2 separate regions of the Homo sapiens genome follow, and region 1 is linked to region 2. The links come from fine-mapping of genetic effects on gene expression. A gene starts in region 2. The other region holds a variant in brackets. All regions are shown on one strand. Distances are from middle to middle.

Evidence for each region.
Region 1: its variant is fine-mapped to the expression of ZNF727 in whole blood (TOPMed, PIP above 0.99).

The regions. Positions count from the first base shown.
Region 1 is chr7:63,061,531-63,064,348 of GRCh38, forward strand. No RefSeq gene overlaps it. Among named protein-coding and RNA genes, the nearest start is that of LINC03075, 290 kb to the right of the region's middle. The variant C/A (reference allele first, on the strand shown) is at 1,171.
Region 2 is chr7:64,043,957-64,046,774 of GRCh38, forward strand. It overlaps ZNF727 (zinc finger protein 727), which reads left to right and starts at 1,478. Exons shown (of 4, transcript NM_001159522.3): 1 at 1,478-1,668. The coding sequence starts at 1,666.

The DNA.
Region 1 (2,818 bases), 980 kb before region 2:
TAGACAAAAAAGAATAAAAAGAAATGAACAAAGCCTCCAAGAAATATGGGACTATGTGAAAAGACCAAATCTACGTCTGACTGGTGTACCTGAAAGTGACGGGGAGAATGGAACCAAGTTGGAAAACACTCTGCAGGATATTATCCAGGAGAACTTCCCCAATCTAGCAAGGCAGGCCAACATTCAGATTCAGGAAATACAGAGAATGCCACAAAGATACTCCTCGAGAAGAGCAACTCCAAGACACATAATTGTCAGATTCATCAAAGTTAAAATGAAGGAAAAAATGTTAAGGGCAGCCAGAGAGAAAGGTCGGGTTACCCACAAAGGGAAGCCCATCAGACTAACAGCAGATCTCTCAGCAGAAACTCTACAAGCCAGAAGAGAGTGGGGGCCAATATTCAACATTCTTAAAGAAAAGAATTTTCAACCCAGAATTTCATATCCAGTCAAACTAAGCTTCATAAGTGAAGGAGAAATAAAATACTTTACAGACAAGCCAATGCTGAGAGATTTTGTCACCACCAGGCCTGCCCTAAAAGAGCTCCTGAAGGAAGTGCTAAACATGGAAAGGAACAACTGGTACCAGCCGCTGCAAAATCATGCCAAAATGTAAAGACCATCAAGACTAAGAAGAAACTGCATCAACTAACGAGCAAAATAACCAGCTAACATCATAATGACAGGATCAAATTCACACATAAAAATATTAACTTTAAATGTAAATGGACTAAATGCTCCAATTAAAAGACACAGACTGGCAAATTGGATAAAGATTCAAGACCCATCAGTGTGCTGTATTCAGGAAACCCATCTCACGTGCAGAGACACACATAGGCTCAAGATAAAAGGATGGAGGAAGATCTACCAAGCAAATGGAAAACGAAAAAAGGCAGGGGTTGCAATCCTAGTCTCTGATAAAACAGACTTTAAACCAACAAAGATCAAGAGACAAAGAAGGCCATTACATAATGGTAAAGGGATCAATTCAACAAGAAGAGCTAACTATCCTAAATATATATGCACCCAATACAGGAGCACCCAGATTCATAAAGCAAGTCCTGAGAGACCTACAAAGAGACTTAGACTCCCACACATTAATAATGGGAGACTTTAACACCCCACTATCAACATTAGACACATCAACGAGACAGAAATTCAACAAGGATA[C/A]CCAGGAATTGAACTCAGCTCTGCACCAAGCGGACCTAACAGACATCTACAGAACTCTCCACCACAAATCAACAGAATATACATTTTTTTCAGCACCACACCACACCTATTCCAAAACTGACCACATACTTGGAAGTAAAGCTCTCCTCAGCAAATGTAAAAGAACAGAAATTATAACAAACTATCTCTCAGACCACAGTGCAATCAAACTAGAACTCAGGATTAAGAATCTCACTCAAAACCGCTCAACTACATGGAAACTGAACAACCTGCTCCTGAATGACTACTGGATACACAACGAAATGAAGGCAGAAATAAAGATGTTCTTTGAAACCAAGGAGAACAAAGACACAACATACCAGAATCTCTGGGACGCATTCAAAGCAGTGTATAGAGGAAATTTATAGCACTAAATGCCCACAAGAGAAAGCAGGAAAGATCCAAAATTGACAACCTAACATCACAATTAAAAGAACTAGAAAAGCAAGAGCAAACACATTCAAAAGCTAGCAGAAGGCAAGAAATAACTAAAATCAGAGCAGAACTGAAGGAAATAGAGACACAAAAAACCCTTCAAAAAATTAATGAATCCAGGAGCTGGTTTTTTGAAAGGATCAACAAAATTGATAGACCACTAGCAAGACTAATAAAGAAAAAAAGAGAGAGGAATCAAATAGATGCAATAAAAAATGATAAAGAGGATATCACCACCGTCCCACAGAAATACAAACTACCATCAGAGAATACTACAAACACCTCTATGCAAATAAACTAGAAAATCTAGAAGAAATGGATAAATTCCTCGACACATACACTCTCCCAAGACTAAACCAGGAAGAAGTTGAATCTCTGAATAGACCAATAACAGGATCTGAAATTGTCACAATAATCAATAGCTTACCAACACAAAAGAGCCCAGGACCAGATGGATTCACAGCCGAATTCTACCAGAGGTACAAGCAGGAACTGGTACCATTCCTTCTGAAACTATTCCAACCAATAGAAAAAGAGGGAATCCTCCCTAACTCATTTTATGAGGCCATCATCATCCTGATACCAAAGCCAGGCAGAGACACAACCAAAAAAGAGAATTTTAGACCAATATCCTTGATGAACATTGATGCAAAAATCCTCAATAAAATACTGGCAAACTGAATCCAGCAGCACATCAAAAAGCTTATCCACCATGATCAAGTGGGCTTCATCCCCGGGATGCAAGGCTGGTTCAATATACGCGAATCAATAAATGTAATCCAGCATATAAACAGAACCAAAGACAAAAACCACATGATTATCTCAATAGATGCAGAAAAGGCCTTTGACAAAATTCAACAACCCTTCATGCTAAAAACTCTCAATAAATTAGGTATTGATGGGACGTATTTCAAAATAATAAGAGCTATCTACGACAAACCCACAGCCAAATCATACTGAGTGGGCAAAAACTGGAAGCATTCCCTTTGAAAACTGGCACAAGACAGGGATGCCCTCTCTCACTACTCTTATTCAACATAGTGTTAGAAGTTCTGGCCAGGGCAATTAGGCAGGAGAAGGAAATAAAGGGTATTCAATTAGGAAAAGAGGAAGTCAAATTGTCCCTGTTTGCAGATGACATGATTGTATATCTAGAAAACCCCATTGTCTCAGC
Region 2 (2,818 bases):
CTCCAAAAACATGAACCCCCATGTTCCCATGTTAACTCTGTGGTGAGATTTTTACAAGTCACAATGTTATGTGGTCCCTGCCCCCACTATTTCCCAAATCCAGCTCTTCCAGGCTTTTACTCAGATTTGTCTTATAGAGGCATTTCAGGGACTGTTGCCACAGGAGGGAAGGGCTACGGGAGAAAGGCCCCTTGCTCTTTTGATGTGGAGGCCTCCGGCTGTGAGGGAGGAGCTCTTCCCTCTGACTCCCTGGAGCTCCTCCCCATCACAGGGACACTGCCTTTTTGCTGCTTTAGCCTCATCTGGCCTCTCTGTGGTTTCGTCTCCAGGGTGGCCAACGTGGATGTCTTCATCTGCCAGAGTCAAAGAAAAGGTCAGTGATACTATGCTCCCTTCACCCAGTTATGCCCAGTTACACTGACCTGGTATCCTGGATAACTGGTGTGAGTAAGCTGGTCCAATGCTCCTGTCATCTCCAGTAAGTTCTGATTCTAGATTGACTCCCTGCTCCAACACTCCCTGTATGTGGAACCTTGGGCATGCAGCCAGGCCTCCCTGAGACTGTTTTCTCAACTTGAAAGTGTGATGGGAACCACCTACCTCACTGGGCCTTGTGAGGACTCAGTTATATGTAGCTGTCACCATTGTTCTCATCATCTCAGGAAGAGCCAGGCACAAGCACTCTCAAAGTTCTTTTCTCCTTTGAAGCTCATCATTAGCCCCTCTCAGTCTCATCATCCCTACATTTTTTGGATAAGAAAACAGAGGCCCAAAGAGGGCAGTGACTTGCCCAGGGCCCTAGAGAAGAGGCCGGCTCCTTCCCACACCTGGAGGCACTGACCCAGCTGACTTTACCCCACAGCCCAGCACTATCCCTGACTAGGGTCCCATCTTCGTTCTCCATGCTTGTTTAGGTCCTCAGGCAGGCTCAGCTTTGGTGGGAAAGAAACAGGGTGTTTTGGGAGGTCTGGGTGAGTGGCACTAACCAATCTGCTAGGCCCTCACCTCTCAGTCTCACTGAGACACTCCATTAATTGGAAGCAGACCCAAAATTGCTTCACAGACTGAAGGTGATAATTGTCTGCAGCCAGCTGGTGCAGCTGCATCTCCTGGAGGACTTTGATCTCCTGCAACTAAAGGGAAAGACAGGATGCTGAGACAGGGCCTGCAGCATACACATAACTATAATTCAGAAATTGATATACACACACGTAAATATAATCAGAAAGTGATATAATCTTATATACAACGTTAAATACAAATGTCCCTCAGGCAGGGCCAGGCCCCCAACACAAGGAGAAATCGCTGCCTGAACATGCTGCAGGCAAAAACCTGTCACTCTTTCCTCATTCAGCCCAGTGTCTCATTACATCTCCTGTCGATCAGGGTCTAAATGTGTGGGGCGGAGAACCCCAGCCAATCAGTGGTGCTAGCGTGAAAACTGCCCAATCAGGTGCGCAGCTAGAGAGGAAGAGGCGGGCTCTTCAATATGGCAAGGCCTTCGTCTCCTAGCTTCTAGGCTCTGAGTCCAGTACCCGTCTGTACTATTCCATCTCTTCCGCTCCATTAGCTCCTCGGTGACTCCACCATAGCCCCTGTTATCCTGTGACCTGCAGGTACTGGGAGATCCATAGGGAAGAAGGCGGAACATCCGGAGGCTGGGAAATGGTGAGTGCGCGGAGTGGGTGTCCCGAGAAGGGGGAAGAGGCTGTTTGAATCCGGTCGGAACTGGCTGCGGTGGGATCTTGGCCTCGCGGTCAGCTCTGCAGCAGCTCCGAGTCCCCGTGGGCACAGTTCAGTCCTCACTTCCCTCCGTCGCAGATTAGGAGCTGAGCCTGCAGCCAAAACCCGAGCGTCTTGTTTTGTCCATAAACGCGAATTTCTTTCCAGCCCAGAGACTTTTTGGGCAGCTCTGTGTCGCAATCCCGAGTCTCCTCCAGATTGTGCGGGGACGTCATAAGACGAGAATCCTCATTCAGGGTCTGGAGTTCCTCCGTGGAAGAAGCAGTGGGCCTTGGGGTCCCCAGTCCCTCCTTTCTCCTTTTAAAAATTGTGGCTTATTTTATTTATTTATTTTGGAGACAGTGTCTCACTCTGTGCCCAGGCTAAAGTGCAGTGGCAAGATTTCGGCTCACTGCAGCCTCCACCTCCTGGGCTCAGATGATCCTCCCACCCCAGCTCCCCAAGTAGCTAGGACTAGGGAGACATGCGCCGCCACCTCGCCTGGTTTTGTGGTTTTGTTTTTTGTTTGTTTGGTAGAGACGGGTTTTTGCAATGTTGCTCAGCCTGGTCTCGAACTCCGGAGCTCAGGTGATCCGCCCCCCTCGGGCCTCCTAAAGTGCCGGGATTACATGCATGAGCCACTGTCGTAGCCTAAATTGAGGCATCTTTAGGATATAGTTTCGAAGTGTTTTCCAGCCCAACTCTCCTATTTAAATGTAATACCCCATGTTGGAGGTGGGGCCTGGTGGAAAGTGTTTGGATTATGGGCGTGAATTTCTCATGAATAGTTTAGCACCATTCCTCTTGGTATTGACCTCTCGATAGTGACTGAGTTCCCTGAAGTTCTTATTTAAAAGTGTATAGCAACCCCCTTGCCTTCTTTTCAAGCTCCTGCTTCACCTTGCACCAGGATTTTAAGCTTCCTGGGTGGGGCCCCCCCAGAAGCAGATGCTGGTGTTATGCTTTCTGTACAGCCTGTGGAACCATGAGCCAGTTAATCCTCTTTCTTATAAATTACCCAGTCTGAGGCATTTATAGTAATGCCAGAACCGATTAATACAAACAGTTTATTTGCACAAACAGCAATTTATGAATC